Regions from separate parts of the Homo sapiens genome. Here region 2 is linked to region 1. Evidence: fine-mapped expression QTL. Tissue or cell type: whole blood. Region 1 holds a variant in brackets; the other region holds the start of a gene. All regions are shown on one strand. Distances are from middle to middle.

Region 1 (4,374 bases):
TTATGAATCTGGGTGCTCCAGTATTGGGTGCATATATATTTAGGGTAGTTAGCTCTTCTTGTTGAATTGATCCCTTTACCATTATGTAATGGCCTTCTTTGTCTCTTTTGATCTTTATTGGTTTAAAGTCTGTTTTATCAGAGATTAGGATTGCAACCCCTGCCTTTTTTTGTTTTCCATTTGCTTGGTAGATCTTCCTCCATCCCTTTATTGTGAGCCTATGTTTGTCTCTGCACATGAGATGGGTCTCCTGAATACAGCACACTGATGGGTCTTGACTCTTTATACAATTTGCCAGTCTGTGTCTTTTAATTGGAGCATTTAGCCCATTTACATTTAAGGTTAATATTGTTATGTGGGAATTTGATCCTGTCATTATGATATTAGCTGGTTATTTTGCTCGTTAGCTGATGCAGTTTCTTCCTAGCCTCAATGGTTTACAATTTGGCATGTTTTTGCAGTGGCTGGTACTGGTTGTTCCTTTCCATGTTTAGTGCTTCCTTCAGGAGCTCTTGTAAGGCAGTCCTGGTGGTGACAAAATTTCTCAGCATTTGCTTGTCTGTAAAGTATTTTATTCCTCTTTCACTTATGAAGCTTAAGTTTGGCTGGATATGAACTTCTGGGTTGAAAATTCTTTTCTTTAACAATGTTGAATATTGGCCCCCACTCTCTTCTGGCCTGTAGAGTTTCTGCTGAGAGATCAGCTGTTAGTCTGATGGGCTTCCCTTTGTGGGTAACCTGACCTTTCTCTCTGGCTGCCCTTAACATTTTTTCCTTCATTTCAACTTTGGTGAATCTGACAATTATGTGTCTTAGAGTTGCTCTTCTCGAGGAGTATCTTTGTGGCGTTCTCTGTATTTCCTGAATCTGAATGTTGGCCTGCCTTGCTAGATTGGGGAAGTTCTCCTGGATAATATCCTGCAGAGTGTTTTCCAACTTGGTTCCATCCTCCCCGTCACTTTCAGGTACACCAATCAGACGTAGATTTGGTCTTTTCACATAGTCCCATATTTCTTGGAGGCTTTGTTTGTTTCTTTTTATTCTCTTTTCTCTAAACGTCTCTTCTCACTTCATTTCATTCATTTGATCTTGCATCACTGATACCCTTTCTTCCAGTTGATCGAATTGGCTACTGAGGCTTTGCATTCGTCATGTAGTTCTCATGCCGTTGTTTTCAGCTCCATCAGGTCCTTTAAGGACTTCTCTGCATTGGTTATTCTTGTTAGCCATTCATCTAATTTTTTTTTCAAGGTTTTTAACTTCTTTGCCATGGGTTCAAACTTCCTCCTTTAGCTCGGAGTAGTTTGATCATCTGAAGCCTTCTTCTCTCATCAAACTCATTCTCTGTCCAGCTTTGTTCCATTGCTGGTAAGGAGCTGCGTTCCTTTGAAGGAGGAAAGGCGCTCTGATTTTTAGAGTTTCCAGTTTTTCTGCTCTGTTTTTTCCCCATCTTTGTGGTTTTATCTACCTTTGGTCTTTGATGATGGTGACGTACAGATGGAGTTTTGGTGTGGATGTCCTTTCTGTTTGTTAGTTTTCCCTCTAACAGTCAGGACCCTCAGCTGCAGGTGTGTTGGAGTTTGCTGAAGGTCCACTCCAGACCTTGTTTGCCTGGGTATCAGCAGCGGAGGCTGCAGAACAGCGGATATTGGTGAACAGCAATTGTTGCTGCCTGATCGTTCCTCTGGAAGTTTTGTCTCAGAGGAGTACCTGGCCGTGTGAGGTGTCAGTCTTCCCCTACTGGGGGGTGCCTCCCAGTTAGGCTACTCAGGGGTCAGGGACCCACTTGAGGAGGCAGTCTGTCCATTCTCAGATCTCCAGCTGTGTGCTGGGAGAACCACTACTGTCTTCCAAGCTGTCAGACAGGGACATTTAAGTCTGCAGAGTTTTCTGCTGCCTTTTGTTTGGCTATGCCCTGCCCCCAGAGATGGAGTCTACAGAGGCAGGCAGGCTTCCTTGAGCTGCGGTGGGCTCCAACCAGTTC[G/A]AGCTTCCCGGCTGCTTTGTTTACCTACTCAAGCCTCGGCAATGGTGGGCACCCCTCCCCCAGCCTCGCTGCCGCCTTGCAGTTTGATCTCAGACTGCTGTGCTAGCAATGAGCGAGGCTCCGTGGGTGTAGGACCCTCCGAGCCAGGCATGGGATATAATCTCCTGGTGTGCTGCTTGCTAAGACCATTGGAAAAGTGCAGTGTTAGGGTGGGAGTGACCCGATTTTCCAGGTGCCCATCTGTCACCCCTTTGACTAGGAAAGGGAATTCCCTGACCCCTTGCGCTTTCCGGGTGAGGCGATGCCTCACCCTGCTTCGGCTCACGCTTGGTGCGCTGCACCCACTGTCCTGCACCCACTGTCCAACAATCCCCAGTGAGATGAACCCAGTACCTCAGCTGGAAATGCAGAAAGCACCCGTCTTCTGTGTCGCTCATGCTGGGAGCTGTAGACTGGAGCTGTTCCTATTCGGCCATCTTGGCTCCACCCGAAAAGCTTTAGTTTTATAGTTCTACTTTGAACTCTGATTTATCTGTAATTTATTTTAGTGTAAAGAATAAAGTTGGAGTCTAGCTTTATTTTTTCCCCAAATGGTTATACAGTTATCATAATGCCCTTTAATGTTTAATTCATTTCTACCTACTGATTTAAGGTGTCATTTTTAATTTTTACCATATAATAAATTTGCATGTGCATTTGATTGTATTTCTGAAATATAATCTTTTACATTGATCTATTTGTGGGTTGCACTAAAATGTTTTAGTGGTTGTAGCTTTATAACGTATTTTAATATCTGACAGCATTAGTCTCACTTTATTACTATTATTTTTCATAAATTTCTAGATATTTTAATGTGATTAGTATAATCTGTTGGATTCCAAAAAAAAAAAATGCATGGTGGTATTTTTTTTTTTTTTTTTTTGAGACAGGGTCTTGCTCTTTTGCCTAGACTGGAGTAAGTGGCAGGATCACAGCTGACTACAGCCTTGACACTGCCCCACCAGCCCCTCTCCCTCCACCCCACTCTAGTGATCCTCCCACCTTAGCCTCCCAAGTAGCTGGGACTATAGGCGTGCACCACCACATCCAGCTAATTTTTTTTTTTTTGTAGAGATGAGGTTTTGCCATGTTGCCCAGGCTTGTCTCAAATTTCTAGACTCAAGCAATCCATCTGCCTCGGCCTCCCCAAGTGCTAGGATTACAGGCATGACCCACCATGCCTGGCCACACGGTGGTATTTTGACTAGATCCACATTAAATTCACAGGCTAGTTTAAGGAACAGGACAATTCTTACAATTCTGCCTTCCTGTTGAAAAACAGCTTATATCTGAAGTTATATGAGTTATCTTTTTATATATCTTTGTGAATTTTAAAGTTTTTTTTCATGTTGGTATGAATATTTCTTATAAAATTTATATCTTTTTGTTGCTACTGTAAAGATAATATTTTCCATTATATTAAACTGGTTATCATTTGTATATAGGAAGGCTACTGATTTTTGTATATTGATTTTATAAATATGATATTTTTACTTTTGAAAATATTTGCAGCAATAAAACATTACCTCTGTAAATCCAGAATTTCATTTGCAATATCTGTTCCAATACTACCAGCACCAAGTACTGTTCCAGTAGACATTCCAGGTACACTCATACAGGACTGTCTAGAGGATTCTAAGTAACAGCAAAAGGAGAAATTCAGTTGAGGACTTTATCTTTCTTTCAATTCAAATAATTTCACAGTTCTCTCCTTAAAAGAAACAGACTAGCTGCATCCAAAAAAGTTGGAAAACACTCATCCTTGCATTACATATGTAATTCATGATGCTCTTTGAATCAAATGTGTAGAGTCACTGAGGGCACAATTGTGACTAGTAACCCTTGACTCCAGTCTCTTGCCACTTTAATCTCCACAGCAATACTACTTCAATGTTTCCTAAGATTTTTATTTTTACAAATAATACATTAATATATTCCTGTGGTGAAAAACTCACACAGATAAGCAAAAACTCCCCCAATACTTTTCGTTAATTTGTCCAAGAGTGTCACAATTGACAAGGAACAATGTTAGCTGCTAGGGCTGAAAAATGGATAAAACATCATTCCTGCCTTAAAGAACTGTCTACTGGAAAGCAAGTTGAATGAACAACTAATTGCAGTATAATGCAAGATTATAACAGAAAAGTGAGCAAAGCACTGTGGGAATTTTGAGGGGGACATGGTGATACCTCTGGGAGTTTAAATGGGATATCTATTTCCCGTTGAATTTAGTCTCTTCTAAACCAAAGTTGGGATTCCTATAACCCAACCTGCAGAACTACTTTTAATTTCACCTTCAAATTTTCCCCTCTCCAGGACAGAAAAAGATAGTAATAGTCTTAATAATATGT
Region 2 (4,374 bases), 72 kb after region 1:
AATAAACTATTAATCTAAAATAGTTAGATAAATAGCATTAAACTTTATCTAAAAGCTTGTTGTAAGTTCGTAAGACTTATCTGGGGAATTAGTAGGTGCATTTTCTTTGAATTAGTAGGTGCATTTTCACTTCCTTTCAGTTTGGCCAATTTTAACTCACAAGGGACAACACTTTCTTAATGGACCAGACAGCACTCACCAATTTCACAAAGCAAATTGAAGTTGTAAATTAATAACTACATTAAGTTAATGTTTTATGAAGCACTTACTATTTCCTAAGTATTGGGCTAAGCATTTTATTTGCATTCATATCTCATATCTCATTTACTCCTAACAATCCTATAAGGCAGACTGCATAGTTATCTCCATTTTACAGATGGGGGAACTTAGACTAAGAGATTTCAAATAACCTGGGTGACACAGACAGTAAAGGGCAGAGCTCAGTCACAAGACGGAGCAGAAAGGGTGTCAGAGCTTATAAACACCACACGTGCCATCTTCTATTTTCAACAAAGGGTTTACCTAAGACTACGAATATTCAAATGATCGAATTTCTGAAATCGCCCCATGATGTAAATTCCCACAATTATATTAGAATTTCGAAAGCCACCTCCTCTCATTGCCTTATTTCAGAGAAGAATCTAAAACTCTATCATCTTATTCCAAAAGGAAAGGGGAGAATTAACTGCTTCCCTGAACTTCTCTGCCAGTCTTCCTTCAGTTATTTCTGTTTTCCTGCCTCTCATTTGTCTTAAACAACAGCTATTTTGTATTCATTCCGTAATTGTGAGCAGTGGTCCCAAAGGCCCCGTTGTAAGGAACTACAGAATACTGCCAGTGAATACTAGCGAGAAGGAAAAAGCACCGCAAACTTCCAACTCCATTCACAAAAATACCACAGAAATACATAATCGAACAAGCTAACTCCACTGACGGCTTTCCTGAAGCTTCAGCGGTGAAAGACACGAGCCGCCTGTCGCTTATGGAGGGCTGTCGCGGAGCGGGCTGCGATCCCGGAGTGTGGCCCCGCGTCCACGCGCACCTGCCCACCTGCGCGCTCCACCGCGGGGCAGCGGTTCAAGCCGGGAAGCCGCGAGTATTATCAGCTCAGAGGGGAGGGGTTCACAGGAACCGGGCTAGGTCCGAGGCTGCTGACAACTGGTTTACACAAAAGAAAGAAGAAATATAGGAAGTCCCCGCAGCAGTGCATGCCATGCCGACGCCGACGCGGGCGCCCAGCAGTGGGTGGAGGCGGATGCTCCCAGCGCCGGGTGCAAGGTCCCCCGCTGGCTCCCTTTCGCCAATGCGCCCGGCCCGGGACCAAGACACCGCGTCCTGAGCGCCGGCGGCGACCCCAGCTCCCCTCCCCGCGTCCCGCTCCCCGGGAGGACGCGCCGGGCGCCGCGCCGCACCTGTGCCCCACGGGGCGGCCTTGTCCCACCGCCCCTCGGAGGCGATGCTCCGGCCCGAGAGGACAGGCGCGGGCGCTTCCCTCGGGGCAGCGGGGGCAGACCTGGCGTCGCGGGGACGCCCCCAGCGCGTCAGACGCCGCGCGCCCACCTGGGGCCGTCGCCTCGCCACCGGCAACCTCACCTCCCGCCGCAGCCTCCTCTTCCGCCGCCATCGCAGGAGCCACTTGGTCGGCTCCGCAGCCCCGCGGCTGGCAGCATGGAGGAGCCCCGGGCCCGCCCTGCCCCGGCCCAGGCGGCGGCTCTGGAGCAGGGAAGCGGGGACTGGCGGGCCCTGCCGGGTGCCGCGGCGGCCGCCACCGCAGCCCGTAGGCGCGCACGGGACGCCGCCCCGCAGCCCGGCCGGCAGCAGCTACTGAGCATGCGGACTGGAGCCAGCCGCCCGCCGCTCTGGGCGCCGCGGGGCTTCCCGGCGGGAAAGAGACCCGGGCCAAGGGCGGAGTCGCTGCGGACACCGCCCCGCCGAGCCCTCCCGCGAGCAGCAAAGCACTAAAAGGCCAGTTGAGTCCTTCTAGCAACCACCCTATTGAAAACAGGCTTCCATGCTCATAGTAAGCTTTGTCCCAGCATTCCGAAGATTGCAGTTGTTAGACCCTCGGGGCAAAGGTAAAGGATGAATGAAGATAATTGCACGGTGGGTTAGCGGAGGGCACGGGGCTAGGGTTGGGGAGGAGGGTGCTGGACGAGAGACCCTGCTCTTTTCTGCTTAAGGAAGGGCTTAGCTGCAGAGACGAGAGTGTAGATGACAGAGAGAGGGTCCCGAGGAAGCCGTTTTGCCTCCTGGAACGGTTGGGTAAATCCAGAAACAAGATCTTTTGGGCATCACTTGACAGCCCTACATCCTATGGCCACGTGTCTAGAATACACTGGTTTGCTGCCCTCCCACTGGTCCCTAGACCCATTCCTTGGTAATCTAGTAGAAGTAAGTAAAGGAAAGTCACAGTAGAGAAGACACCAAATCAAACTTTGCAACCAGCCTAAAGGTAATAACTTTCCTACAAGGACTCAATTCCAACGTCTTAACCAGCACCTTATGTGTCCTCAGGGCAGTACTTAGGGCCATTGTGAGAGGCTGGGCAGAGGGTTTGGAAGTGTGTTCCCAAGCAGAAGTGGGCATGACAGGAGAAAACTGTTGCAGGCTTAAGCAGGGGCTAGGACTTTAGAGGTAAGGGAGACGTGCTGAAAACTGTGCTGTCCTCAACACACACCAAGACACATCCCTAATCAAAACCAGTCTTGAAACGTCTCATTCCTAGCTTTGACTTGGAACTCCACCCCAAATTCTACCAACACCAACTTCTCCTGGCAGCTAGAAACAGTAATTCCATACAGGGTTTCCCGAATGTGATCAAACCTTGGCTTTCCAGACAAGTGTACACTATTTTGAGGTGGTTTACCAAGGGGTAACAGGTAGAATTAATTAGACCTGGGCTTTAAGATCTGGGTTAAAATGTAAATACTATTCTATACATGGCCTTGCTTACAATGCATTTTCCCCCTTATCGGCTCAGTGAGCCTCACAACCTCTTTCTTAATTCCTGTCTTAGTAGAGAAACAGAAGTTCAGAGATGTCGAGTATTTTGGCCAGGATCACTCAGCTAGTAGATAGTAGAAGCAAGACCATAAAAGTTAGGTCTCCTTCTTAGGAGTTCCTATTGTGGTGTCCAGTAAGCTTGCCTGTGAATCATTGCAGTCCCCGTTTCTTAGAAACGATGATTCACTTCCACCAAAGCCTGAAAGCAAGAGAAGGGGAATCCAGAATCTAAAATACGAAAGCAGGAAGGGTAATAATGCACAAACAAAGCCGACCTACAGCATTCCATGGGGCACAACCCTTTCATTGCTTAATAGGTATTCCCCTTACTGCTCAGGTTTAAAGCCTGCTTGCTCTCTTTTTTTCTTTATGCTCTGGAGCTTTACTTTCTAAGACATGATTTTTTTGTTTTTTAAAGAGTAGCTATATAACCCATAGGATAAGGCAGAGAGACATATAATGTCTTGCCAGATGGATAGGAAGGTAATCTCTCATTTCCAGTGAGTGGTTTTCTCATATTTTCAACTTGGAAAAAAAAATGTGAGAAAGGTGATTGGATGATTTGTATAATAGAATGCTAGAGAATTTGTGTAATAGAATGCACACAGTTCCTTCTGGTCAGCATGGTTCCCCTGCCAAAAGCCCTGGAGCTGCCTTGCTCTCCAGGAATCATTGCTTGCCTTTCACTTAATTTGTTCATTAATTTTCTTTCATTGCTAAGTACTCAGGCAAGAACAAATATTTTAAAGGTGGAACAAATACTCCTTTGTCCATCTGGAATTAGGAACCACGGCCTCACAAGCTGTAAACTCCTGTCCTTTTAGCATTCTGCTGGGATTGTAACAATATAACTTAGATTAGAGAGGAGTCCCTAAAGCCACTTAGATATTGTATTTGGTCCAAGAACAACAACAACAACAACAACAACAACAAAAAACAACAAGATAGAACCCAAACCCAAAACAACAAAAAACCACACCTGCTTCAGAGTGTAATTAAATTGAAGATACTATTTCCAATGATGCATAACAATAAATAACACAGAAGCCAGGAAGGGGAGAGAAGAGGGGGTGGAAAACAACAAGGGGAAAAGAAGGCTGAACATATATTTATTACCATTGGGAACTGTACACTTAAAATGGTAAAGATGGTAAATAAAAAAAAAACATTACATAGGCCGGGCATGGTGGCTCACGCCTGTAATCTCAGCACTTTGGGAGGCCACGGCAGGCGGATCACGAGGTCAGGATGTGCAGACCGTCCTAGCTCACACGGTGAAACCCCGTCTCTACTAAATATACAAAAAATTAGCTGGGTGTGGTGGCGGGCACCTGTAATCCCAGCTACTCGGGAGGCTGAGGCAGGAGAATT

Evidence for each region. PIP is the estimated chance that this variant, and not a neighbour inherited with it, causes the effect.
Region 2: BMAL2 starts here. The variant in region 1 is fine-mapped to the expression of BMAL2 in whole blood (TOPMed, PIP 0.94).

The regions. Positions count from the first base shown.
Region 1 is chr12:27,402,717-27,407,090 of GRCh38, reverse strand. It overlaps BMAL2 (basic helix-loop-helix ARNT like 2), which reads right to left. Exons shown (of 17, transcript NM_020183.6): 14 at 3,550-3,658. All of the region lies in intron 1 of BMAL2-AS1 (BMAL2 antisense RNA 1), which reads left to right. Among named protein-coding and RNA genes, the nearest start is that of BMAL2-AS1, 42 kb to the left of the region's middle. The variant G/A (reference allele first, on the strand shown) is at 1,985.
Region 2 is chr12:27,330,323-27,334,696 of GRCh38, reverse strand. It overlaps BMAL2 (basic helix-loop-helix ARNT like 2), which reads right to left and starts at 1,861. Exons shown (of 17, transcript NM_020183.6): 1 at 1,594-1,861. The coding sequence starts at 1,624. LOC124902906 (a long non-coding RNA gene) reads left to right here and starts at 1,900. Exons shown (of 2, transcript XR_007063255.1): 1 at 1,900-2,075. RefSeq lists silencers at 1,368-1,487, 1,508-1,977.